Linked DNA regions of Homo sapiens. Each later gene encodes a partner of the first gene's protein in a complex. Each region holds a gene or a part of one and is shown in the gene's direction. Other genes may lie near its edges.

What was found.
Region 2: LSM6 (region 1) and LSM7 share a complex: the UniProt entries of both Homo sapiens proteins name them as parts of the precatalytic spliceosome.
Region 3: LSM6 (region 1) and SNRNP40 share a complex: the UniProt entries of both Homo sapiens proteins name them as parts of the U4/U6-U5 tri-snRNP complex.
Region 4: LSM6 (region 1) and PRPF3 share a complex: the UniProt entries of both Homo sapiens proteins name them as parts of the precatalytic spliceosome.

What each region holds. Positions count from the first base shown.
Region 1 is NC_000004.12:146,171,459-146,178,736, forward strand, and holds the start of LSM6 (U6 snRNA-associated Sm-like protein LSm6), read left to right. Parts: upstream 1-4,259; 5' UTR 4,260-4,353; exon of another isoform or gene 4,354-4,979; intron 4,980-7,278. UniProt on the Homo sapiens protein: Plays a role in pre-mRNA splicing as component of the U4/U6-U5 tri-snRNP complex that is involved in spliceosome assembly, and as component of the precatalytic spliceosome (spliceosome B complex).
Region 2 is NC_000019.10:2,325,574-2,332,454, reverse strand, and holds the start of LSM7 (U6 snRNA-associated Sm-like protein LSm7), read left to right. Parts: upstream 1-3,868; 5' UTR 3,869-3,888; coding exon 3,889-3,894; intron 3,895-3,977; coding exon 3,978-4,068; intron 4,069-6,881. Other genes in the region: SPPL2B (signal peptide peptidase-like 2B isoform 2 precursor), read right to left, coding at 3,680-3,745. UniProt on the Homo sapiens protein: Plays a role in pre-mRNA splicing as component of the U4/U6-U5 tri-snRNP complex that is involved in spliceosome assembly, and as component of the precatalytic spliceosome (spliceosome B complex).
Region 3 is NC_000001.11:31,279,777-31,286,801, reverse strand, and holds part of SNRNP40 (U5 small nuclear ribonucleoprotein 40 kDa protein), read left to right. Parts: intron 1-5,305; coding exon 5,306-5,428; intron 5,429-7,025. UniProt on the Homo sapiens protein: Required for pre-mRNA splicing as component of the activated spliceosome. Component of the U5 small nuclear ribonucleoprotein (snRNP) complex and the U4/U6-U5 tri-snRNP complex, building blocks of the spliceosome.
Region 4 is NC_000001.11:150,331,513-150,338,537, forward strand, and holds part of PRPF3 (U4/U6 small nuclear ribonucleoprotein Prp3), read left to right. Parts: intron 1-1,171; coding exon 1,172-1,255; intron 1,256-1,466; coding exon 1,467-1,687; intron 1,688-3,422; coding exon 3,423-3,729; intron 3,730-6,647; coding exon 6,648-6,814; intron 6,815-7,025. UniProt on the Homo sapiens protein: Plays a role in pre-mRNA splicing as component of the U4/U6-U5 tri-snRNP complex that is involved in spliceosome assembly, and as component of the precatalytic spliceosome (spliceosome B complex).

The sequences.
Region 1 (7,278 bases):
ATTTTGTGAGCTAGGAAAGAGGATGAACGCTATCACTCTAATTTATGACCTTTCATATAAGGCCAAATGTAAAGGCAACTTCAATTGTTTTATATCTCAGGGCCAGCACATAGCAGATGTATGAAATTTGGAGTGTTAGACATAAACTTTTATTACCAAATTATAAATAATTTCTCCCACTTATAATGTTCACCTTTCAAGTTCATCTTGATTAAAATACAAGGGCAGCTTCACACCGATTTCACTAAATTTTACAGCTGAGAGAGGTTTTCTAGAGTTCACGGTGGAGTATAAAGCATCACAGCATTTGGGAGATTCTCCTTCCAGGAGCTCAGACTCTGATCCTATCTCTTTTAAAATTCAAGTCATGCCAAAATGATGGCTGATGAAGTCCGAACATTATTTAAACATCTCACATGTTACATCTGAAACCAAGCGCCCATGATGTAGAATATATCACTTCCTTGGGTAAGCAAAACGACATACTACTTTTTCTGAGAAATTTGCCCACCAGTCAATGAGCTTGTATCACTTCTTAGAAGGTATTCAACAACCAGAGAGTGTCTGTCTGTTTCCTTATTTTCTTTTTTCCCCTCCCTCCCTCTTTCTTTTCCTTCTTTCTTTTTCTTTCTTTCTTTCTTTCTTTCTTTCTTTCTTTCTTTCTTTCTTTCTTTCTTTCTTTCTTTCTTCTTTCTTTCTTTCTTCCTTCTTTCTTTCTTTCTTTCTTTCTTTCTTTCTTTTTTCCTTCTTCTTTCTTTCTTTCTCTCTTTCTTTCTTCATTTAAGAAACAGTCTCGCTCTATCATCCAGACTGGAGTGCAGTGGCATGATCTCATCTCACTGCAACCTTAGCCTGTCGGGTTCAAGAGATTCTCATGCCTAGCCTCCCAGGTAGCTGGGATTACAGGCATGTGCCACTACACCCAGCTAATTTTTTAATTTTAAGTAGAGACGGGATTCAACATCTTGGCCAGGCTGGTCTTGAACTCCTGACTTCAAGTGATCCGCCAACCTTGGCCTCCTAAAGTGCTGGGATTACAGGTGTGAGCCACTGCCCCCGGCCTCTCTTCATTTTCTATAACAAATAATTTTCATATCCCATGATTAAAGGCAGATAATGGTGGCCCCAAGTATCCAAAACTAGCACATCACAGCTTATGAGCTCCTATTGTACAGTCTGAAGGTCCAGGAAAGGTTCAGGTCCATGCCAGCACTTCATACCAGTTAATGCATTGCTCCAACAAGACCAGCCAGTATTCTTGGAAGCTTAACATCCATGTTACATATTAAAATCTGCTTTGGAGAGTGTTGGTCAATCCAATTACATGTTTGTATTTATCATCATCATCATCATCATCAACAACAACCACAACAACATCACAATACATTCATCTACATGTTCACAGGGCTGTTGGGTGTTTAATAAGCTAGACATGAGACCATCTTTTATGAATATGAAACATTGAAGGACATAGTTATTTAAAGGCATATGTACTATAGAACTGTAGAAGGGACAAACAATGAAGTGGCAAGAGTTCTCTTAGCATTTATATATCTGCATTTGTCTATTTTAAGCATAATAGCTTCAAGAGAATGAAAAGACAAGCCATAAACTGGGAGAAAATATTTGTAAAACACATATCTGATAAAGAACTATTATTCAAAATATACAAAGGACTCTTAAAACTCAACAAAAAGAAAGAACAAACTGATTCAAAATTGGGCCAAAGACCTGAACAACCAAAGATATACATATGGCAAATAAGTATATAGAAAGATCCTCCATATCATATGTCACTAGGGAATTACAACTTTAAACAACTATGAGATAGTCACTAAGCAGCTATTAGACTAGTCAAAATCCAAAGGACTGGAAGCACCAAATGCCCATGAGGATGTGGAACAATGGAAACTCTCATTCACTCCTAGTGGGAATGCAAAATGGTACAGCCACATTGTAAGACAGTTTGGCAGTTTCTTACAAAACTAAACATACCCTTGCTATATGATCTAGCAGTCATACTCCTTGATATTTGCCCAAATAAGCTGAAAACTTATTTCTATACAAAAACCTGCATACACATATTCATAGCAGCTTTATTCATAACTTCCCAAACTTGGAAGCAACCAAGATGTCCTTCTGTAGGTAAATGGATAAATAAACTGTGGTACATCCAAATAATGGAATATTATTCAGAACTTAAAAGAAATGAGTTGTCAAGCCATGAAAAGGCGCAGAGGGGTCTTAAATGCATATTTCTAAGTGAAAGAAGCCAGTCTGAACAGGCTACACAGTGGGGTGGTGCAGTGTATGCACCACTAACTGTGTACGGTATGATTCCAAATATATGATATTGTGGAAAAAGGCAAAACTTTGGAGACAGAAAAAAGATCAGCGGTTGCCAGTGGGGAGGAAGGGATAAATAGGTGGAGCACAGAGAATTTTTAGGGCAGTGAAACTATTCTGTATGATACTGTAATTGTGGGTACATTTCATTATGCATTTGTCAAAACCTATAGAATGTGCAACACCAAGAGTGAACCCTAATGTAAACTTTGGCCTTTGGATGATAATGATGTGTCAGTGTAGGTTCATCAGTCCTAACAACTAAATGAAACTAAACTACATAAGTTAAACTAAAGCTTGCCAAAATATTTTTATGACTTTAAGGCTCCTTAATAAATTAATGTTTACATTCAGGGTTTTGAAGACTAGTATTCACCAAAAGTCTTGCAGTGTTTTCTTTGCATCATAAAAGATGCTGAAAGCAAAAACCTGGGAAATACGGAAAATTGCCTTGTGAGTTAGTAAAAGTCATTTATAAGCTGCTGAGGGGCTTTTGGGAACAGCCACACTTTTTATAAGCTTGTTAGCTCATGAATTAATTCAGGATGCCCACCCCGTGTGTCAAACTGGGCCCTTACCCAGCTACTCCCCTTAGAGAAGGTTGCAGCTGCTCAGCAGATGAACTAGGCCCTTAAAACTCCTCATGGCTCCCTACCCACCACACTAGTGTTAACGGCTCGATTAGGGCTCTGTAGGAAAGGGAAAGAAGTTTGAATCAAAAATTTTCTTTTTTTTTTTAATAATTTAAACAATCAGTAAGGAATGTGCAATTTGATGTCGTTTGCAAAGAAAGTTTTTAGGAACAGGGCTTTTTATCCTATTATGTTTGTTCTTTGCACGTAATTATTTGATTTAAATGGTACTTTTCTTAAAATTTTTATTTACATTGTATTTTATATTGCAAGAACTTCAAATACAGCCCTCACAATAAATCAGTAACTGTTCGGTCTTTATCCAAACTGAACTTTTATAGAAGGATATAAGGAAGTCTCTATTCTTTAACAAATCATATCCAGTTGTTTTCTGTCCCTGATATCAATCAAAAGTTCATTTCTTCTGCCTTTAACCAAAAGAAGTTTACAAGGGAGGAACTCTTTATCTTCGAAAAAAATTTTGCATCTTAGATTTTATAACACCTAATGGGGTTAAGGATCTGTGTTGAAAGATCTTATCACTCTGTGTATAGTGTTACAAATCATAAATATAATTAAAGTATAAGTTTTCAACTGATGAGAGTATATGTGGAGGGGGAAAAACGAATCAAGTCCTGGTGTAACAGTTCTCTTCTTTTTCCCTTTCAATTCCATTAATAGAAAGAGTATTGAGAATTCATGCAAAATTCCAAACCAAGTTCCCATAGTAGCACTGAAATAAGTCTGCACACCATTTCCAATAGGAACTAGTAATGTAACACAATTAATGTCATTATAATTTGGAGTTACTTGAGTGATTTTGATTATTTTTGTATCAATTAACATTGCCATGGAAACAGTCTCTTGCTAAAATGGCTTAAGTCTTCACACATTTAATCAATATCCAGAGGTAGATTTAAAGACTTGAGGTGTTTCATTTATTTATTTATTTGCTTTAAACTATTCAAGGACGTTTCTGGGTACACAATGCCGTTACTTAAACAGTAAATTCCAGTTTCCTATGACTTCAAGTTATTTTTTACACTTCTGTAAATAAATCCTGCCCAAAAGATCACTTCTAGTTTCCTGGAATTTTGTTTTTGTTTTGTATTGTATTTGTTTTGTACTCAGATTTCTGTTAGAGGAACTCCACTGCACCAATTTTGCTACTAGACAAACCAGGAATCTTGGATTTGCGCGCTTTGGTGCTGACAGGCTTTTTCGGCCCCAGCGGGCTGCCGTAGCAGAGAAGAGCACTGATTGGCTGAGGCAGAAAAGTGCCCCTGCCTCGGCGCTTTCGGTTTTGGCTGGGATCATCCGCGGCGGCCGGGCTCGTGGGGCGCCTGGAGTGAGGGTTCTGGTTCCCGCCGGCGAGGTGAGCCGCACCGCTGCGCGGGCCGACGACGGGGCCGGGCGCAGCCCCAGGTTCGGTGCCCCAGTGTTCAGTCGCGCTGTGGAGCGGCGGCTGCAGCGGCCCTAGGCCGGGCGAGGCAGCCCCGGAAAGGGCCTGCGGTGAACAGGCTGGGGCTCCGGGAAGGGACCGCTGGGTGGCGGGTCCCCGCGAAATGCCGCGTCCAAGCTCTCCGCGCATGGAATGGCTGGGAGAGGTCTGATGGTGGGCGCCGGGACCGCCCTCAGCGAGGCGCCTAGACTGCGCGGAGAGGAGCGGCACCGTCCCGGCTCCTACCGAGTTGGCGTCCGAGATCAATTCAGGTTGTTGAAGTTCCCCAGGGAGCCCCGACGCTAATCCCAAGATTCGGCGGGAAAGCGGATCCCGAACCCAGGCCTAGGCTTCGCCTGTCTTCCAGGAGGGCTTCAGGGAATTGCGAACCCTCTCCTACATCGGGGTGGCTGCGCCTGACCACAGGAATTAAAGGCTGGACTCGCCTGTCTTACCAAGTTGTCAGGTCGAGGAACCCGATTGTATGGTCTTAAGTCCTATCGCCCAAGGTTTTCTGTGCGTATGCGTGTCCGCACACCTGCATAGCAGGCATTTTTAAGGTGTGTAGGATTAAGATGATGCGGATTACCCTGCCCCACTGCTCTTAGTAATACGTGACTATTGTAGAAAATTGCAAACATAGAAGACTTTAGTGAAGAAAATAATATTCACTGAACCCTTTCACCTACGATCATTTTCTCTTGTATGTGCTAGCTTCTACTTGAACTAAGAGTGTACATGTTTAATCACTTAACAGTGTAGTTTTCCACTTCCATTTAAAAACTCTTCCTAAATATTATTCTAATTTTGTATCTTCTTTTGATTGTCCTATCATTGTGGGTCCCAGTTTAGGTCCCGTAAATTATTCAGTCATTTCCCGATTGTGGGACATTAGATTGTTTTTGAATTTTTACATCATCTTAGCATCCCAGATAGTGCTTTGATAAACTCTTTTCCCCCTATTTTTTAGATTATTTCCTTGGACTAGATTCTCAGAAGTGAAATTATCAGATTAGATGCTGTCATCTGAAAGGTCTGTTTTAGGCCTTCATACACATTGCTGCAGTGTTTTCCAAAAAAGTTTTAGAGATGTTTGGTAATTTTACTTGCTTAAATATTGTGCAGAAATCTTGAGAGGCTTGTGTTTGTGGTGTGTGTGTGTGTGTGTGTGTCACTGGCGTTAATGCGTTAGACTACCTGAATGTTAGGGCAGGAAGAGACTTAAGTGGTCATCTGGCATAACTCCCTTATATTGCAGATGAGGAACCTGGGGCCATGAGAAGTGAAATTATGAGTTATCCAAGTCACACAGCTAATTAAGTAGCAGAGCTGGGATTAGAACTCAGGTTTCCTGCCTCCCAAGTGAGTACTCTGTGCTGTATCAGGCAGTCTCTCACTGAACTGTGGCATAGTAGATACTAGAATTTAAAAATTTGTTTACATCACCTGGGTTATTCTCTCCTTTTAAAAGTGTACTAACAGATTTTAATCATCGGAGAGACCTGTAACACTGAAAAATTGGAAAGTGATCATTTTCATGGCCAAGACTAGAAATCCATTATTTAGAATGGCAACCCCTTCAAGATTTTGACAGTTGTTTTCAGGTTCCCTATATGTTAGAATAAAACACCCCTGATTAATTATAACCTACACTCCATCATTTGGTTAGAATGTAGCTTTTGGTTATCATTTGCGGTACCTTGGAGATTTCTTTAAAACTCCTCACTTTAAAACCAAAGAACAATTTTTTTTATTTTTATTTATTTTTATTTATTTTTTTATTTAGGGCTTATAGCAGAGATTGTCAACTTCCATTGACATTTTGTGCTGGGCAGTCCTTTGTTGTGGAGGGCCGTCCTGTTAGTTGTAAAATGTTTAGCAACATCCCTGGTCTCTACCCACTAGGATAGCAGTAGCACCACCTTCCTCAGTCATGACAGTTCAGTGTCCCCAGATATTTCCAAGTGTCCCTGAGCAGGGTGGGGCAGGGTTGGGGGTACTGCCCCTAGATGAGAACCATTTGCTTATAGAAATTATCTGGAGAACTTTATAAAATGTAAAATACAGTGCCTTTACCTGAGTAGACTTCGGGAAAATCTGCATTTTAACAAGCATCTCTAGATTTGGAAACAGCTGGTTCTTGAATGACACAAACAGTTGTTTTCTCAGTTTTTGGTGCTCATAATAGAGATTACTTGGTTAGTATTTGTTGAAGTACATGCATGATCCTACTGGTCACTGTATCCATAGTTTGGGCTGATGGGGGCTGGACAGGGATTTTGCTTGGCACTGGCCTTGAATGTCTCTTCCACAGACTTGGGTAGTGTGCTTAGGTACCAGGGACACCAAGTGAGTAAGATATTTTCCCTGTCCCCAAGAAGCTTTAAATTCGCACGGGAGACCAGTCAGCAAATGGAAAAATTACGAAACAGCCTGATAAGGGCCATGACTGAGAGTGGAAAGAGGTGCTCTGAGTGGACTCACTTCGCCTTTGGGAGAGAGGGAGAGAAGTAGCCCCTGCTGCCGAGGAAGGAGGGATTGGTATGAAGCCTTCAAAAGACAGCGAGGAACTCCACTGTGTCCGAAGGGAGGATTTAGAGAGCTGTTCTTCTGCCTATCTGATCGCCTCCTCAGACACTGATCTATTAGTCTAGTGCTGCAATTACTTGGATTGTAATGTTTCCTTGCAATTTTTGCTTTTCAAATTCTTTTCACCCTAAACTGTAAATACGCCAGGAGTAGGTAAAAACTTACAGGTAAACATTGCCAAGAAATAAGGATTTTCATGTCTTCTGCTCAGTGGCATAACTCAAATCACATGAGATAGATTTCTTTGCATCTGTCCATTGTATTTCTCTG
Region 2 (6,881 bases), on another chromosome or scaffold:
GGGAAAACAGTGCAGACGCAGCTCTGCCAAGCTAGGACTGGGGAAGGACAGCTCTGGCTTGGCTAAAGGTCCCAAAGGTCCCTGGTGCCAGACACCAACCCCAGCACACAGGCACAGACGGGCTCTCCAACAGCCGGGCCCTCATCACTGAAATCATGCAAAGTCTCCGGCCTGGTCTGGGAGCATCTGGGTCAAGGCCCTGGTGACCTCGGGGTGGCAGCATGGTGAAAGCCCACGGAGCCCCGGTCCCCACAATCGACTGGGGGTCTCATAGCTCTTGGCTAATGCTGCTTCCTTCCCACAGCTGCCCCAGCCCCACTCCAAGCACCTCCCATGTGACCTCCCCCAGAGCCCAGGCAGAGTCAGGAGCCCTTTCTTTCCAGTTCTGCCCACCAGACTGCCTGCCCGTGAGAGCACCCCTTAGTCTGGCCCCGGTGCCGAGCCCGGAGGGTGCCCCTTCCAACACAGCCCCCCAGAACCCCTCCTCCAGGAGGGATGTTATGGGTCACGGCAGAGGCCAAGAATCCACAGTCCGGCCCACCTTCTGTGTTTGTAAATAAAGTTTTATTGGAACACAGCCAAGCCCATTCCTAAGGAAGGGTCTCCGGCTCTGGAAGAACAACAGGAGAAACCAAGCAACCAAACCAGAGGCCACGTGGGCCACAGAGCCCAGCAAAACTACTGTCTAGCCCTTCCCAGAAAACACTTGCCAAGCTCTGTTCTATGGGATCAGGGACTCTGGTGAAAAGTGTCTTTTGTGTAAAATGGGAACTGATAGAACTGCTTCTCTGCTTCTCTCTAAAAGGGTCATTTAAAAGCACAAAAGCACATTCATGCATTTTCCTCTCCACAATTCGCAAAACTGGTTTTCCATTAAAAAAACAAGCCTGTGCCTCTATCAAAGGCCAGAGAACGCGGCATCTCACCGGGAAGAGTTTCCTCACCTGCTGAGTTAAAGGAACGGGGAACAATTCTTCCAAAGGCCACAGCTCTAAGAGGGCCCTGAGTTCTAGACAGGCCCACCGAAATTTGGAGGAGCAGAAAAAGCTCAGGCTACAAGGACAGGCTCAAAGCCCAAGCCTCGACCTCCAAATCCTTCACAATTGCAGCACAAACGCTTTGCAACCGCACACAGGTTCAGAAACTACTAGGCTTAGAAACCCCGCTTCCAAGTGACTGTGAAAGCATCCACATCAAGGGCCTTTGAAACAGGCCAGTGAGTCCAGGCGGGGAGAGCCTCCCTTCTGGGAAGACTGAGGAGTTCCAGGAGCCGGGCCGGGTCCAGCCAGGGCCACCAGCTCCAGCTCAGATCTGCTGAGGAGCGGGCTCCGTGGGGTGGGGGAAGGGAGGTGTCTCACTGGGGAGGTCGACTTCCTTGCTCAGGGTCACAGAATGGTAGCAAGCAAGCGAGTTGAGGACTGTCACCAACCAGGCTCCTGCCCTGAGAGCAAGTCTCATTCTTGGGCAATCGGACTCAAATTTCCACTGCCGCGAAGCACTGCCCCCCTCCAGGGACAGGCGTCTCAGGGTGTATTTACAACCAGGGTTCTGGAAGGGGCAGGAACACCTGCTCTCTCACGTCCCTCTGACACATCCTTTGACTCCCCACCCTCCGGATAAAGCTCACACTCCTCAGCCCGCCCAGGTTAAAGTCCACGCACCCCAGCACCAAGCGCCTTCCACGGCCTGGCTTCCACCAGACAACCTGTCATCCAGACTAGGAGGCTGAATGCTCTGCCTTCACTCTCTGCCTGGGGCCACTCGCACCACTGCCCCCTCCTCTGTGCCCCTGCTCCAGCAACCCTCCACGGCCCACCCCCCGGGCCTCCTTGGTGGTGACATCTTTCAGGGTGTAAACCCTTCCTTCCAGCATTATTCCACCCTACACTCCAGCCACAGCCCACCCCTTGCCAACCCCAAATAACCTGCCAGCTCTCACACCTCCCAGCCCCCGCTTATGCTGCTTCTGGTGCTTCCAACACCCTTCCCCTCCTGCCGACCCGGCAAACTCCTACTCATCATTCAGAACACCTGCCTCGGGGCCGGGCACGGTGGCTCACGCCTGTCATCCCAGCACTTTGGGTGGCCGAAGCAGGTGGATCACCTGAGGTCTGAAGTTCGAGACCAGCCTGACCAACATGGTGAAACCTCGTCTCTACTAAAAAAAAAAAAAAAAAAATTTAGCCAGGAGTGGTGGCATGCACCTGTAATCCCAGCTATTCGGGAGGCTGAGGTGGGAGAATTGCTTGAACCGGGAGGCAGAGGTTGCAGTGAGCCTAGATCATGCCACTGCACTCCAGCCTGGGCGACAGAGCGAGACTCCGTCTCAAAAAAAAAAAATAGATCTGCTTCGGAAAAGCCTTCCCAGGCAAACTGAGTCCCTCTCTCCACAGAGTTCTGTGATCTTTCTTCCACCTCTGGCTTTCCCCCTCCTTCCAAATGTCTGGGGAGCTCTAGGTGCCTGGCTGCAGAATGGGGGGAGTCCAAAGGGGGCTGACAGAGCAGCTGGGGGTAGGACTGGGGTTCTCAGAAAGCTTCCGAGGGGGCCCGACAGCCTTGCAGAGACCAGGGGCATCTCAGGGTAAGAGAAAAGACTAGAGAGTGAAGCGACTGCAATGAGCTGCAGGCTTCCCCAGCAGCCAGGTCACAACTGGACGGCGCACTCATCTGGATGCGACACGGTCTGACATACTTTGAAAGGGTCACCCCTGCTGTGTCGAGGATGGACTGGGGATGTGGTGGACAAAGGCAGCCACAGCAGAGGGATAGCGGTGGGGCTGGAGGAGTGGAGACTGAGGAGCCAGGTGGCGGCGACGCCTTAAGAGTGAGAACTCTGAGGGGGTAGTGAAGGTTAAGGGCTGCATTTGTGGGGCTGCTCCAGGTTCCATTGCCTGAGCCACCGAACTCAGGAGAGAGGGAAGATTTGGAATTAAGAAAATAAAAGATGCAGTTATGACAGTGCGATCTCGTAGACTGTCCCCACTAGAACCTGACACTCTTTACATCAAATGACACACAATGAACATAATGAAGGCCTGTTGGCCCTGGGCGCTGGTCACCCTGGACAGAACCTCCAGAATCCACACCATAGTCGGTCCTCCTTCTGCACACGAATTCCATCGTCCAAGGTCACGGAGTAAAAGATGGAGCGGGGATCCGACCCCAGTGCAGGGCTGGACTCCTGGCCGCTCCAGGATGCTGCCAGTTACTGGGGGACGCGCGGGACGCCTCTGGGTTCCCCCACCGCACCCCCTAGGGTGAGGTTAGCTTAGCACCGTGCCCGTTCCGCCTAAGGGGAAACTGAGGCTCGGAGAGGGGTGGGCAGCCGCCTGCTCAAGGCCACAGAGCCGGAGAGAGGCGTCCCCGGCGGCAACTGGAGACCCCGAAACGGAGAAGCAGAACCGGAGGATGGAGGGGGCACAAATTTCAGACCCGGTGGGAAGTGAGTGGCGCTGCAGCGGCGGAGGGCCTCCGAGGCGGGGAAAGGAGAGGAGCCGGGGACAGACCCGCAAGGTCACGGCCGAGCCCCGGCACCGCCGGCCGACAACGCGGGGACGGCGGATCCCCGAGGCTGGACCCCCAAGACGGGCCGAGCGGGGTCGTTCCTGCGCGTAGCCCGGGGACAGAGAGGCCGAAGGGCCGCAGCCCGCGGTGCCGTCGGGACCGGTGCCGCGCTCACCTGGGCCGCGAGGAGCAGAAAGGCCGCCAAAAGCCGCGCCAGCGCAGCCGCCACCGCTGCCGCCATGTCGGCCGGTGCCCGCCGCAACCAACGGCAGATGTTTCCCAGCAACGCCCCGAGACCCCGGGCCACGCATGCGCCGCGCATGCGCGTGGGGGAGGTCAAAGGGCGCGGGGCGGTGCCTGCGAAGAGCCACACGGCGCGACAAGATGGCGGTGAGCGCGCGGCGGAATCTGGAGCCGGGGGGCGTGGAGCTCGGGCCGCGCTCCAGGTCTCATGCGCTCTGCTTTCCCCGCAGGATAAGGAGAAGAAGAAAAAGGAGAGCATCTTGGACTTGTCCAAGTACATCGACAAGACGATCCGGGTAAAGTTCCAGGGAGGCCGCGAAGGTGAGGAGGCTCCCGCTGTCGGTACCCCCTCTTTAAAAATTTCAAATAAACCCAGCAACAGAGATGATGAGGACGCATGCGGAAGCACCTCTTTTATTTATTTTCATTATTTTTTTTGAGACGCAGTCTCGCTCTGTCACCCGGGCTGGAGTGCAGTGGTGCGATCTCAGCTCACTGCAACCTCCGCCTCCCAGGTTCAAGTGATTCTTGTGCCTCAGCCTCCCGAGTAGCTGGAATTAATGTGTACCACCACGCCCGGCTAATATTTGTATTTTTAGTAGAGAGGCCATGTTGGCCAGGATGGTCTCAAACTCCTGGCCTCAAGCGATCTGCCTGCCTCAGCCCCCTAAATTGCTGGGATTTCAGGCATGAGCCACCATGCCCAGCCTAGCATTTTTGACTGGGCAAGTGAGCTGCCTTCTCCTAGCCTCCGTTTCCTCATTTGTCAAATGGGGCTGGTAACTCCACCCACTTCACAGGGGGTGGTGAGAATGAATGGTTACAGGCATGTAATGTAATTGAGGCAGCTCTCAGCAGGAAGTAAGCAGTCAGACAACACGTCACTTATTCAATAGCCTCTTGGATCTTTGGTTTCTTTTTTTTGTAAGACGGGGACCCAAACCTCTTTGTCCCTGGATTGTAGACAACTGGGTGGCATGAGAGTTATTAAAAATCACAGTGCCCCAGCCGGACGGGGCGGCTCACGTGTGTAATCCCAGCAATTTGGGAGTCTGAAGCAGGAGGGTGGCTTCACCCTAGGGTTTGAGGCTGCAGTGAGCTATGACCGCACCACTGCACTCCAGCCTGGGCCACAGAGCAAGGCCCAGTCTCAAAAGAGAAAAAGGAGGCCAGGCACAGTGGCTCATGCCTTTAATCTTGACACTTTGGGAGGCCGAGGCAGGCAGATCAGGAGGTCAGGAGATCAAGACCATCCTGGCCTACGTGGTGAAACCCTGTCTCTACTAAAATACAAAAAGTTAGCTGGGCATGGTGGCGCACGCTTGTAGTCCCAGCTACTCGGGGGGCTGAGGCAGGAGAATTGCTTGAACCCCAGAGGCGAGATTGTGCCACCGCACTCCAGCCTGGCGATAGGGCAAGACTCCGTCTCAAAACAAAAAGAAAAAGGAATATGAATAAAATGTTTTCTCAGTCTACACCATGCTGACTCCGGACATGGAAGGACATGAGTGAGCGGCCGCTCTTGCTGGTCACACTGCTTCCCTTTGTTTTCTGCCCTTCATAGCAAATCACCCATTTAGCAGCTGAAACAGCACCATTTTATTATCTCACAGGATCTGTGAGTCAGGAGCCAGGGTACCACAGCCTCAAGGGCTCTCAGGAGGTTGTAACTGAGGGTTGTTTTTTGGGGTCCATCATCTTGGGGTCTTCTTCTGAGCCCACTGGTTATTGACAGAGCTCAGTGCCTTACCTTTGCAGGGCCAGGGTCCCCGTTCTGGCCAGTGTTGGCTAGGGACACTTGCAGCTCCCGGACGCTGCCAGCTCGGGACTCTGTTCCACCGTGGTGGTCTGCCCCTACAGTGCTGCAGGCTGAGCTGACATTTGTCCATATTCAGTTATTCGGGCCAGTGGGAGAATCATCTTTCAGAAAGGGTTTGGGGCCGGGTGCGGGGGCTCACGCCTTAATCCCAGCAGTCTGGGAGGCTAAGGCAGGTGGATCACCTGAGGTCAGGAGTTCGAGACCAGCCTGGCCAACATGGCGAAACCCCATCTCTACTAAAAGTACAACAATTAACTGGGCGCTGTGGCTCACGCCTGTAATCCCAGCACTTTGGGAGGCTGAGGCGGGCAGATCACTTGAGTTCAGGAGTTTGAGACCAGCCTGGCCTACATGGCAAGGCCCCATCTCTACTAAAAATACAAAAATTATTTGGGCATGGTGGCGCATGCCTGTAGTCCCAGCTACTTGGGAGGCTGAGGCAGGAGAATCGCCCTGGAGGCAGAGGTTGCAGTGAGCTGAGATCGCGCCACTGCATTCCAGCCTGGGCGACAGAGCAAGACTCCATCTCAAACACACACACACACACACACACACACACACACACACACACACACAAAAAGCAGAAAGGGTTTGGTCCCTGAAGGGCTCACCTGATGCAGTCAGGCCCACCCAGGGTGTTTCTCTCTTGATTGGCTCAGTCAGCTGATTCAGGGGCTCTAATTACAGCTGCAAAGTTCCTTGTCTTTGCCACATAACCTAAGCGCAGGAGTGACATCTTGTCCCGTCAGAGTCACAGGCCCTAGCCCACACTCCAGAGGAGGGGCACCTTGGCTCCATGTTAGAGACCTACCTACCTCAGTGCTCACATCTCTCCCCGTGAGGAGGGCGGGCTCACTGGTCAGGCTGGTGCCAAGGACCTGAACATCTGCATCTGACCCCATCTTATAGGTGAGTTTCATTTTGCAGGGGAGGGACTTGAGCAAAGAGAGAGGGAGCCGTGGAGGTGGAAGCTGAAGCCTGTGGAGGTGGACGGAAGCTTGTATGCAGGCGGGCAGACCTTCTCTGTAGAAGGCCAGACGGCAAATATCTTTAGCTTTGCAGCCCAGATGGTCTCTGTCACAACCACTGAGCTATGCCAGCAGAGCAGGAGAGCCACCCTGGTCAGCGCCTGAGCGGGCGAGTGTGGTGGTGGGCCAGCGAGACTCTGACTTACAGAGAGGAGCGGCGGGCAGGTTCACCTGGGGGTCGTAGTTTGCAGACCCTCCCCCGCACCACCGCACAGGGCGGCCCTCGGTGTGTGTGGAGCAGCCGTGGACGGGCTCTCGGCCCTGCCTTGGGAGGAGACAGGCAGGCA
Region 3 (7,025 bases), on another chromosome or scaffold:
GAGCATCCACACTGGGCAGGGCAGTACATTGTAGGGAGTAGTCAGAGAGTGAGGAAGGCATCCATACAACACAGGGTAGGTAACCAGTGTGGGGAATTTGAGGGTGAGGGAGGGGCAGCAGCCCAACAGTGCCCTAATGGGGTGAAAGGGTCGCCTGTACGTGAAGCAGTACGGGGAGAATGTGGATGTCAAAGCCTGAACTGAGGGCATCCACACAGGGTAGAAATGATTTGGTGTAGGGAGTCTGAGACTGAGCAAGATGATGACTGCATGCTTGGAGAAGTGCAGACTGGAAAAGAGCCGTAGCAGAGTGATGAGGGTGTTCACACAGAGGAATGACCCAAGTTGGTTAAGGAAGAGTCACACATGGCTTCAACCAAGAATGGGAATCACAATTCAAGTAGGGAAGGGTGGAAGAGAATATGGGAAACTGGTTGCATGCAGGAAGCATAATCAAATAAGTGAATATATTGAATTTAATGGGAGGCTGATTTCTCTGTCCAAGAACAGAGTTACCAGTACAAAAGAGAAGACTAAAATGAATCTTGTGTGAGGTATAAGTGTGAACTCACAATATTCAATATAGAAACATATAGAAAAAAATAGACATAAATGTGTGAGTGTGTGTGTGTGTGTACCTAAATGTACATATATTGCCTGACTGTCCACTGAAAAGGTTTAGGAGCAACAAGACCCCAATAGCAATAGCACCCCTTACTGCACAGGTACTGTTTTCCATTAAAAGGAACCAGGGCTCCTATTTCAGCCCAGGGGCAGTGAAAGTACAAGATAAGCCTTGTACTTGTCAAGGCTTATTTTGTCAAAAGAACATCCTAACTAAATTATCAAATCGACCTAATTAGTAATGGGACAAGACAAAATCATGAACCATTTGCTAGGATACAACAAAGATGCAGCATCATTTCTGTGATATTCCTACCAAAGATGTATAACTTAAATCTAATCAAGAGGAAACATAAGACAAACCTAAATTGGGGATGATGACCTGTAACTTTCAGAAGTGTTGAGTTCATAAAACTCAAGGAAAGTTTGAGAGAGTCTTGCAGACTGGAGTCTAAATTTAACATATGATTCCAGACTGAATCCTTGTGCAATAAGACATTTGGGATAACTGGTAAAACTTGAGTGGGATTTGAGGATAAAATGGTGATAGTGTATCTGTATTTCTTGATTTTGATGGTTATGTTGAGATGATGTAGGAGAACATCTTTGTAGGACAGACACTATTTAGGAGTGATAAGGGGCCAGGTGCAGTGGCTTATGCCTGTAATCCTAGCACTTTGGGAGGCCTAGGCAGGTGGATCACTTGAGGTCGGGAGTTTGAAACCAGCCTGGCCAACTTGAAGAAACCCTGTCTCTACTAAAAATACAAAAAAGCCGGGCATGGTGGCAGATGCCTGTAATACCAGCTACTCAGGAGGCTGAGGAAGAATTGCTTGAACCCGGGAGGTGGAGGTTGCAGTGAGCGGAGATCACGCCACTGCACTCCAGAATGAGCAACAGACAGAGTGAGACTCCCATCTCAAAAAAAAAAAAAAGGTGATAAGGCATTGGGTAAGCAACTTACTCTCAAATGATTTAGACCAAAAAAAGTGTTCTTTTTACTTCCAAGTTTTCTATAAATTTATGATTGCTTCAAAGTAAAATAATTATTAAAAGTGGTAGTTATCTGGAACTAAAATTCTAAATTATTTTAAACAAACTTTGACTACCATGACTTTTAGGAGAAAGACAAAGATAGATTTGACCTGAGTGAAGTATCTATTGAGACAAAGATTATAGTACAGTTTATAAAATATATAGGATCTAAATTATTAAGGCCTTGAATTCCAGGTTAAGAAGTTTGGACTTGATTCTGTAACCACAGGAGTTGGGGGAGTAGGAGATGTTGGGCATGTAGGAGAGGAGTGAAGCGTTCTTTTTAGACCATTTATCTGAGTAATGAACTAATTTTTAGTTCGTATTTACATGAACAAAGAAGAAACTACTTTTCATCCTAAACCATGAGAATTGGGAGGAAGAGGCATCTTGGCACAGATCCTACTCAGACTCTCCTTGTTGACTACAGGATTGAAGTTAAGCCTATGACCTTCCCTAAAGTTCCATGGCTGATTCCTTTCTTTTTGATGCCAGCCCTTTAAAACTTGGAACAGTCATCCCAAAGTCTCTTTCTTCTGAATGAAACGACCCATACTTTTAAATCATTTACTTGTGGTTCATCTTCTCAAGTGTGTCATTCATTTATTGAAACATCTCTGAGCCCTCTCTGTGTTATCCACGCTTTAAAAAAGTAGAGCTATAAGGGTTTGTTTGTTTAAGAGATGGGGTCTTGGCCGGGTGCAGTGGCTCACGCCTGTAATCCCACCACTTTGGGAGGCCAAGGTGGGTGGATCACCTGAGGTCAGGAGTTCGAGACCAGCCTGGCCAACATGGTGAAACCCCCGTCTCTTCTAAAAATAGAAAAATTAGCTGGGCGTGGTGGCGCATGCCTGTAATCCCAGCTATCCAGGAGGCTAAAGCAGGAGAATTGCTGGAACACGGAAGCAGAGGTTGCAGTGAGCCGAGATGCCGCCACTCTCACCCAGGCTGGAGTACAGATCCGCAATCACGGCTCACTGCAGCCTCAACCTCTCTGGCCCAAGCGATCCTCCCATCTCAGCCTCCCAAGTAGCTGGGACTATAGGCATATACCACCACACCCAACTTTTTGTTTTTATTTTGTAGAGATGAGGAATCACCATGTTGCTCAGGCTGGTCGCTAACTCTGGGCTAAAGCCATCCTCCTGGCCTCGGCCTCCGAAAGTGCTGGGGTTACAGGCATGAGCCACCATACCTGGCCCTCTAAGAATTTTATAGTTTTAGCTCTTACATTTAGGTCCTTGATCCATGTTGAATTAATTTTTGTGTATCATGTTAGGCAGGGGCTTACCTTCATTCTTTGGCATGTGGTTAGCCAGTTGTCTTAGCACAATTTGTTGAGAAGACTACTTTTTCCTTCTATATGGACCATAGTTACTTGCTTCTTTGCATGCCTTATATTTTGTTGAAAACTAGGCATTTAAATATTATAGCGTGGTGACTCTGGAAATTAGGTCCCCAGAGCTGCTTATTGTAGTTGTTTGTTTAGTGACTTTCTGTGGGTTGGGGTAAGGTGAGAGTGGTTGGTTGGTTGGTTTTTGAGACGAAGTCTCGCTCTGTAGCCCAGGCTGGAGTGCAGTAGTGCGATCTTGGCTCACTGCAACCTCCACTCCCCGGGTTCAAGTGATTCTTGCACCTCAGCTTCCTGAGTAGCTGGGGTTACAGGGGCACACCACCATGACCAGCTAATTTTTGTATTTTTAGTAGAAACAAGGTTTTACCATGTTAGCCACGCTGGTCTTGAACTCCTGACCTCAAGTGATCCATCCACCTCGGCCTCCCAAAATGCTGGGATTACAGGTGTAAGCCACCATGCCCGGCCTGTTTAGTGAATTTTTGAACTAATTTTGTAAAGTTTGTATTCTTTGTCCTGTGTGACCACTGAATTCTTTTTTTCGTTAGCTTAGTGGTCAGCTAGTGAATGACACAAGTTTCCTAAATTACCTACAACAACAAGAACAAAAATTCTCCCAGTCTTTGCAGATTGTCTTTTTGTATGTTGGAGCCTGCCTTCAACTCCTTGCCATGCAGTTTACATCTCTCCTTAGCTTTCACTTCCTGCTTGTGCAGAGCCTGAAGGTGAACCAGAGAGCTTACGGCCTTCTCAGATCTTTTCTAAGTATGTGCCCAGCCCTGGACATGCAAGTGGTCTAGATTGCCAGGAATGGGCCAGGCGTGGTGGCTCATGCCTGTAATCTTAGCACTTTGGGAGGGTGAGGCAGACAGATCACTTGAGGCCAGGAGTTTGAGACCAGCCTGGTCAACGTGGCGAAACCCTGTCTCTACTAAAAATACAAAAATTAGCTGGGCATAGTGGCACACGCCTGTAATCCCACCTACTCGGGAGGCTGAGACATGAGAATTGCTTGAGCCCGTGAGGTGGAGGTTGCAGTGAGCCAAGATCGCACCACCGCACTCCGGCCTGGGTGACAGAGGGAGAGTCTGTCCCTAGATAGATAGATAGATAGAGATTAGATAGATAGATAGACACATAGATACATAGATAGATAGATATAGATGATAGAAAGATAGATAGATAGATAGATAGATAGATAGATAGATAGATAGATAGATAGATAGATAGCCTAGGCGACAGAGGGAGAGTGTGTCCCCAGATTAGATAGATAGATAGATAGATAGATAGATAGATAGATAGATACATAGATAGATAGATAGCCAGGAATATGTCGGTGCTTTTCGAAGCTCTTATTCCCCAAATTGTCTCCTTCCCCAGCCCTTCCTCCCAAGGTTTTTGGTTTGTATTTTTGCCCCAACTGTTTTTCCTTGCCCCCAGGAACCAGAGGCTAATAATGTCCTTTCCTTTAAATGTTTTCAAGGGAAGTTCCAAGTTAGGCAAAATAAATGTAAGTCCTTTGGGCTCATCCTTCAGAGAGCCACCAGACAGGTAAAAATAAACAATTTTTATTGTTTATTCTTTGACAATAAGAAATAGGCCCCCTTTGCTTCCTCAGTACTAGGAAACCATACTGGGAATATGGGTTATCTTCAAAGCTGTTGCTGAGCAGGAGACAGAGCCAGCACAAGTTAAAACACTACAAAGCCCTTTTACTGGGACTCAGGGAGTTTTTTGTTTCCTTTTTCCTCATTAAGGGTTTGCCGGGTTACTATAAACTTTTGATTAGTTTTGAGAGTTCCAACAGTTGATTCTGACAGATTTTGCTGGTTAATTTGCTGCTTTCGTGGAGGGACAAGCTTTTGTCATTGTTTATTATACTATTTTCACTGACATACCCTCTATTTTTTTAAATGTGGGTTGCAGCCTACTAATGAATTAGTCTCTACGGTTTGAAAAAATTGTCTGATATCCTTGTTGTTCTAAAAAATATATGAACTAAGTAGTTAGGGGAATTCCATTCTAAGAGTATGTTGATTTAACTCTGTTCACTTCAACAAAGAAGTCTGAAAATATAACCGAAGTTTTGTTTCACCAGCCTTCAAATGTCTTGGCAAAATTGAGCACACTGCTTACCATGTGTGTTATTAGGATATCCAGGAGTTAGTGATATAGGATCCCAATTATAGATGTGTTCATGTCCACAAAGTCCTCGTACTTAAGGGATATTTGTACTGTGCAATTGCTTCTTAGAATGATGTTGCTGATAGACTGTCTTGTCCTTTGCTTCAGCTTTGGGACATCCGGAAGAAAGCAGCCATCCAGACATTTCAGAACACGTACCAGGTGTTAGCTGTGACCTTCAATGACACAAGTGATCAGATTATTTCTGGTGGAATAGACAATGATATCAAGGTATGTTTGATGTTTATGATATATTTCCATTTCATCTATCTGCACTTAGAAACGAATTTTTTCAAACTTCTGAGATTGTGGTAGCTTTGCACTTAATACCAACTGAAAGGAAAATAGTAACTTGGAACTTATTTTCTTTTTCTCCTGTCTTCATTGACTTCCTAAATTAAAGTTTGCATTGCAGATCTTATAAATGCTGTCAGGGACCAGGCACTTAATGTGAAGTGTGAAGTCTCTGTAGGGGGACTATGTAAAAAATAAAGAGTGCATTTCCTTTTAAAGACATTCAAAATCTTTTTTTAACCATCTTGGTTTAAAGAGAGCAGTGAATCAGTTTGTGATTCTGTATCCTCATCTCTCACTGTGTTTTTCTTTTTGACACTATGGAAAGAGAGTTTTCTAAGTTTCTCTAAGAATGAGAGAAGGTAATGATATTAAAGAGGCAATAGACCATATGGCAGTAGAGTGTAGCTCAAACTTTCAAGTAATTGACTTGGGTTCTAATCCCAGTTTCACCATTTTCTAGTTTTGTGACTTCAAGCACCTTCTTTAAGCCTCTTTTTCTTGTGTGAATGGTGAGGGGGTAATGATAAAAAAAAAAAAAAACAGTAGCATCTACCACATACCATTGTGGGGATTAAATGAGCCTGATTCATTAGAGCACTTAGCAGAATTCCTGGACATAACAAGTGCCAGGAAATGTATTATTTTGGGCCTGCACAGCTTCTGTCTTCCTTTCCTCTTGGCTTCCTTGGGGATCTTAACGACTTTGACCTTACCTTCTGCTTTATAGTAAGAAGAGTAACTGTCAGATACTCAACTTTCTGTGTTGTCCTTACCTAGAAGTTGTACTGTATTTCCATCCCTCATTGTTTCCTTTGCTGTTACTTTGGATGAAATATCCTTGCTTTTGGCCAGGTGTGGTGGCTCACACCTGAAATCCCTGCACTTTGGGAGGCCGAGGCGGGTGGATCACAAGGTCAGGAGACCGAGACCGTCCTGGCCAATGTGGTGAAACCTCGTCTCTACTGAAAATACAAAAATTAGCTGGATGTGATGGTGGTGTGCCTGTAATCCCAGCTACTCAGGAGGCTAAGGCAGGAGATTACTTGAACCTGGGAGTCAGAAGTTGCGGTGAGCTGAGATCACGCCACTGCACTCCAGCCTGGCCACGGAGCAAGACTCCATCTCCAAAAAAAAAAAGAAAGGAATATCCTTGCTTTTGTCTAAAGGTAGTCCTTTTTTTTTTTTTTTTTTTTTGAGTCAGAGTCTTCCTCTGTAGCCCAGGCTGGAGTGCAGTGGTGCTATCTCAGCTCACTGCAACCTCTGCCTCCTGGGTCCCAGTTCAAGCAATTCTCCTGCCTCAGCCTCCTGAGTAGCTGGGATTACAGGCACGTGCCACCATGCCCAGCTAATTTTTGTATTTTTTAGTAGAGACAGGGTTTCACCATGTTGGGCAGGCTTATCTCGAACTCCTGACCTTGTGATCCACCTGCCTCGGCCTCCCAAAGTGCTGGGATTACGGGTGTGAGCCACCGTGCCCGGCCTAAAGGTAGTCCTTTAAATGTGAGGGTTTCAATCCTTCGTCACTTCTTTC
Region 4 (7,025 bases), on another chromosome or scaffold:
CACCACCACACCCGGCTAATTTTTGTATTTTTACTAGAGACGGTGTTTCACCATGTTAGCCAGGCTGGTCTTCAGCTCCTGACCTCAAGTGATTCGCCCACCTCAGCCTCTCAAAGTGCTGGGATTACAGGCGTGAGCCACCATGCCTGACCCTTCCGTAATTTTTGAATTTTGAATATATCACCTATTCAAGAAAAAATGTTAAAGACAAATGTTTAAAAATATCTTGAAGCAGTTTAAGAACAGGTCTGTTTTGCAAAATGTAAGAGGAGTTGTTTGGCCATACCCTCAAAGCTTATCATTCTGAACTTCTTTAGGACAGAAGGGGTTTATAGAGACTAGGGAGCAGGTCTTTGCACCATCGTCTCTTGTTTCCCAAACTAGTAGTTCAAGTACTAATATCATGATTTTTTAAAAAAAATTAAGTATAGGCTGGGTGCGGTGGCTCACACCTGTAATCCCAGCACTTTGAGAGGCCGAGGTGGGCGGATCACGAGGTCAGGAGATCGAGACCATCCTGGCTAACAGGGTGAAACCCCATCTCTACTAAAAATACAAAAAATTAGCCGGGCGTGGTGGTGGGCGCCTATAGTCCCAGCTACTCGGGATGCTGAGGCAGGAGAATGGCATGAACCCGGGAGGCAGAGCTTGCAGTGAGCCAAGATCGCACCACTGCACTCCAGCCTGAGTGACAGAGCGAGACTCCATCTCAAAAAAAAAAAAGAAAATTAAGTATAATATTTTGTGTAGGTTCTGTTAGGTTTGCATGCATTATTTAAGTGGTTAACACTAGACCTGTAAGGTAGGTACTGTTTTCTTCCCCCTTCTAGACACTTAGGAGGTTTAGAGACTAAGTTCCTTATCCAAGATAACAAAGGCATTAAGTGGCAGAGTTAAGATTCAAACTCAGGTTTCTCTGACTCCAGAGTCTCAATCATCACACTATATTACTACCTAATATGCTAATCTTGCTTTAGGAACATGGGTTGAAAAATTCCAGTGCTCACTTATCTTGACTAAATTTTTTGCACTGTGGTGCAGGCAGAATGTGGTATAGTCATTCAAAACATTTTAAGTGTCTAGACCTGAGAGCCTTGTGGGTTTAAAAACCTGAATGGGAGAAGTAAGAAGGAGAAATTAACAGTTTTTCAATTTTTTTCCTGGAGAGCAGATCAAACAGATGATGGAGGCAGCAACACGACAAATCGAGGAGAGGAAAAAACAGCTGAGCTTCATTAGCCCCCCTACACCTCAGGTATTGTGTCTAGATTACTCTGAACAGAATAATCTTTGGCACAGAATTTCTTGCCATCCACTCAAAATGAGAGACTAGAAGAGGTGACTACATGTTTCACTTCATAATCATCTGCTACAGTCTACCATGATGTGTGTGTATATCTGTGTGTATGTATGTGTGTTTGTCTGCCTGTCTTAATTCCTCTGATTTCTTTTTCTCTATCTCACAGCCAAAGACTCCTTCTTCCTCCCAACCAGAACGACTTCCTATTGGCAACACTATTCAGCCCTCCCAGGCTGCCACTTTCATGAATGATGCCATTGAGAAGGCAAGGAAAGCAGCTGAACTGCAAGCTCGAATCCAAGCCCAGCTGGCACTGAAGCCAGGACTCATCGGCAATGCCAACATGGTGGGCCTGGCTAATCTCCATGCCATGGGCATTGCTCCCCCGTGAGTGTCTATTTCATGGAATACCTTTTCATTTCTGAAGTTTGAGAAGCAATAAATACCTTTGAATGTTACTGATCTGGCTGGGCGCAGTGCCTCAGGCCTGTAATCGTAGCACTTTGGGAGGCTGAGGTAGGTGGATCACCTGAGGTCAGGAGTCAGGAGTTCGAGACCAGCCTGGCCAATATGGTGAAAACCCATCTCTACTAAAAATACAAAAATTAGCCAGGCGTGGTGGTGCATGCCTGTAATCCCAGCTACTCGGGAGGCTGAGGCAGGAGAATCGCTTGAACACAGGAGGCAGAGGTTGCAGTGAGCTGAGATCGTGCCACTGCGTGGGTGACAGAGGGAGACTCCGGCTCAAAGAAAACAACAAACAAAATATTACTGATCCTCTTTTTCCACAGAACCTAGATCATTTCTCACAGTTTCATATTTCTTAGGTGTGATTGATTAACCAGTTGAATTTTTTCTCGTCTTCCCTGTTGGAGGGTTTATTATCTTCTTATGATTTATATAACTGAGATTAAGGTTATTCATCTAATGTTGGAGCTAGGAGTATAGCCAGGTTTCCTTCCTGGTTTCAAACTCAGATTTATCCATTAAACCACATTGTGTGAGACTAGATCTGAGGTTCCTCTGCAACTGGTCAAAGATGTTACATTTTTTTTAGCATCTACAGTTGGTCTGGCATCCCATGAGTGACATAAGAATTCAGGGATAAGGAAAGATAGGATTATAAATTCATATAATTTATAAACTCATTTCATTTGGTTGTCCTGTATACTGAAATATCCACTTTGATATTTTTAATCAAGATACTATTGGCAGGGCGCGGTGGCTCACACCTGTAATCCCAGCACTTTGGGAGGCCGAGACTGGCAGATTGCTTGAGCTCAGGAGTTCAAGACCAGCCTAGGCAACATGGCAAAACCCCATCTCTCTAAAATATACAAAAATTAGCCAGGCATGGTAGAGCATGCGTGTAGTTCCAGCTACTTAGGAGGCTGAGGTGGGAGAATTTCTTTGGGCCTGGGAGGTTGAGGTTGCAATGAGCTGTGATTGTGCCACTGTACTTTAGCCTGGGCAGCAGAGTGAGACCATGTCTCAAAAAAAAAGATGGTATTGCTCACTGATGAGATTGTTCCCTAGAATTATTTTATTGTCCTTTTTGTTGTTGTTGTTGTTGAGAGGGAGTCTCACTCTGTCACCCAGGCTGGAGTGCAGTGATCTCGGCTCCCTGCAACCTCTGCCTCCCAGGTTCAGTAGCTGGGACTACAAGTGCCCGTCTAAATTTTGTATTTTTTGTAGAGATGGGGTTTCACTGTGTTGCCAAGGCTGGTCTTGAACTCCTGGGCTCAAGCCATCCACCCGCCTCAGCCTCCCAAAGTGCTGGGATTACAGTGTGAGCCACCACACCCGTCCATCCAAATAACTCTTATAGAGAAGGCACTGCAGCCTCAACTTCCTGGGCTCAAGTGATCCTCCTCAACCTCCTGAGTAGGTGGGACCACAGGTATATGCCACCGCACCCAGCTAATTTTAAATTTTTTGTTGAGATGCAGTCTCCTTGTGTTGGCCAGACTGGTCTTTAACTCCTGGGCTCAAGTGATCCCTCTGCCTTGGCCTCCCAAAATGCTGTGGTTCCAGGCTTGAGCCACCACGCCTGGCTTTATTTTGTTTTTTGCTTGCCTTAATGTTCCATACAGGATTTATTTCTTTGCGGGCTATTTTTCAGGAAGGTGGAGTTAAAAGACCAAACGAAACCTACACCACTGATCCTGGATGAGCAAGGGCGCACTGTAGATGCAACAGGCAAGGAGATTGAGCTGACACACCGCATGCCTACTCTGAAAGCCAATATTCGTGCTGTGAAGAGGGAACAATTCAAGCAACAACTAAAGGAAAAGCCATCAGAAGACATGGAATCCAATACCTTTTTTGACCCCCGAGTCTCCATTGCCCCTTCCCAGCGCCAGAGACGCACTTTTAAATTCCATGACAAGGGCAAATTTGAGAAGATTGCTCAGCGATTACGGACAAAGGTATCTGGCTTAGAGTATAACACAGAATTTGGAAAAAGTTAAGAAGCTGACAAGAAAACATTGTTAAATCTCTGTGTTCTAGGAAATTAGATAAATAGGTCATTTAAAGCAGCAGTCCTCAACCTTTTTGGCACCAGGGACTTGTTTCATGGAAGATAATTTTTCCCCTGGAGTAAGGATGGTTTCGTGATGGTTCAAGCACATAGCATTTATTGTGTACTTTATTATTATTATTTTTTTCGAGATGGAGTGTCGCTCTTGTTGCCCAGGCTGGAGTGCAATGGGGCGATCTCGGCTTGCTGCAACCTTTGCCTCCCAGGTTCAAGTGATTCTCCTGCCTCAGCCTCCCGAGTAGCTGGGATCACAGGCATGTGCCACCACGCCTGGCTAATTTTGTATTTTTGGTGGAGACGGGGTTTCTCCGTGTTGGTCAGGCTGGTCTCGAACTCCTGACCTCAGGTGATCTGCCCACTTTGTCCTCCCAAAGTGCTGGGATTACAGGCGTGAGCCACCGCCCCCGCCTTTTTTTTTTTTGGGCGGGGAGGGGGATGGAGTCTTGCACTGTTACCTGGGCTGGAGTGCAGTGGTACAGTCTCAGCTCACTGCAACCTCTGCCTCCTGGGTTCAAGCAATTCTCCTGCCTCAGCCTCCTGAGTAGCTGGGACTGCAGGCATGCGCCGCCATGCCTGACGAATTTTTTGTATTTTTAGTAGAGACAGGGTTTCACTATGTTGGCCCGGCTGGTCTTAAACTCCTGACCTTGTGATCTGCCTGCCTTGACCTCCCAAAGTGCTGGGATTATAGGCGTGAGCCACTGTGCTGGCCTATTTCTATTATTATTTTATTGTAATATATGATGAAATAATTATATAACTCACCATAATATAAAATCACTGGGAGCCTTGAGCTTGTTTTCCTGCTGAAATGGTCCCATTTGGGTGTGATGGGAGACAGTGACAGATCATCAGGCATTAGATTCTCATAAGGAATGTGCAACATAGCCCCCTCACATGTACAGTTCACAATAGGGTTCGCGCTCCTCTGAGAATCTCATGCCACCGATGATCTGACAGGAGGTGGAGCTCAGGCCATAATGCAGGTAATAGGGAGCAATCGTAAGTACAGATGAGACTGTTGGCTTGCCTGCTGCTCACCTCCTGTTGTGCAGCCCAGTTCCTAAAAGACTGTTGGGTTGGGGACCCCTGATTTAAAGCAATGAATACTTTGAAAAATGTGCTGGACAAGATGGCTCAAGCCTGTAATCCCAGCGCTTTGGGAGGCCGAGGTGGGTGGATCACGAGGTCAGGAGTTCAAGACCAGCCTGCCCAACATGGTGAAACCCCGTCTCTACTAAAAGTACAAAAATTAACCGAGCGTGGTGGTGGGTGCCTGTAATCCTAGCTACTTGGGAGGCTGAGTCAGGAGAATCACTTGAAACTGGAAGGCAGAGGTTGCAGTGAGCTGAGATCGCACCACTGCACTCCAGCATGGGCAAAAGAGCGAAACTCCGTCTCAAAAAATATATATATATATTTATTAATATAATACATAATTTTTTTAGCAGATTTTACTTCCTAATTCGTTTCTACATAAGTGGAAATATTATGAAATTGAGTTTGAAAATTCTCCACATACAACTAAGTGGAGGGAAACAATTTGAAACATTCTGAGTGACTAAGGAAGGCTTGCCTGTAGTTAAAATTTAATGAGACAGTACACCTGGAGAGTTGAATTGATTGTATATTGAATGACCTTTGCCGCCTTTTTATCCTCTCAAAGTGAGGTTTTCATAAAATTCCTTTTTTTTTTTTTTTTGAGACGGAGTCTCGCTCTGTCACCCAGGCTGCAGTGCAGTGGCACGATCTCAGCTCACTGAAAGCTCCGCCTTCCAGGTTCATGCCATTCTCCTGCCTCAGCCTGCTGAGTAGCTGGGACTATAGGCGCCCGCCACCACGCCCGGCTAATTTTTTTGTATTTTTAGTAGAGACGGGGTTTCACCGTGTTAGCCAGGATGGTCTCGATCTCCTGACCTCATGATCCTCCCGCCTCGGCCTCTCAAAGTGCTGGGATTACAGGCGTGAGCCACCACACCCGGCCATAAAATTCTATTTCTGCGTATTTACTGCAGGCATATACTGTGGAGTGCAGGGAGGGGTTGAAGGTGAGATCTATGTATATGAACTAAATAAAGGATAAAATAAAGCAGAACAACTCCTTTCTAAGCTTTCAGAAATTATGAACTTGTTGCGTTAGGTGTAAAGAGTTCAACGGGGAAGTGTTTTAAAATTTGGGATTCTTGGCCGAGGTGGGCGAATCACTAGGTCAGGAGATCGAGACCATCCTGGCTAACATGGTGAAACCACTTCTCTACTAAAAATACAAAAAAATGAGCCGGGCGTGGTGATGGGCGCCTGTAGTCCCAGCTACTCGGGAGGCTGAGTCAGGAGAATGGCGTGAACCCGGGAGGTGGAGCTTACACTGCACTGCACTGCAGCCTGGGTGACAGAGTGAGACTCCGTCTACAAAAAAAAAAAAAAATATTTGGGATTCTGGCCGGGCACAGTGGCTCATGCCTGTAATCCCATCACTTTGGGAGGCCGAGGCGGGCAGATCACCTGAGGTCGGGAGTTTGAGACCAGGCTGAGCAACGTGGAGAAACCCCATCTCTACTAAAAATACAAAATTAGCTGAGGGTGGTGGCACATGCCTGTAATCCCAGCTACTGAGGAGGCTTAGGCAGGAGAATCGCTTAAACCTGGAAGGTAGAGGTTGCTGTTAGCCAAGACCATGCCATTGCACTCCAGCCTGGGCAAGAAGAACGAAACTCCGTCTCAAAAAAAAAAAAAAATTGAGATTCTACACATTCTGTTTTCTATGACTCCAATTTATCTTTCTGTCTTGGATTATCTTGTTTTTAGGCTCAACTGGAGAAGCTACAGGCAGAGATTTCACAAGCAGCTCGAAAAACAGGCATCCATACTTCGACTAGGCTTGCCCTCATTGCTCCTAAGAAGGAGCTAAAGGAAGGAGATATTCCTGAAATTGAGTGGTGGGACTCTTACATAATCCCCAATGGCTTTGATCTGTGAGTTTGTTTTAGTACCTTTTTAAAAAAACAGTTTTTAATCAGCTGAGTTTAAGACTCAAGTTAATACCTTTTAGTAAAGCTATGGTTTTAGTGGGAAGGATGGTACTCATTCATTAATTAAAATTTTTAAATCCAAGAGAGATAAGTAACTGTACACAAGGTCCTGTTATTTTTTTTTTTTTTTTTTTTGAGAGGGAGTCTCGCTCTG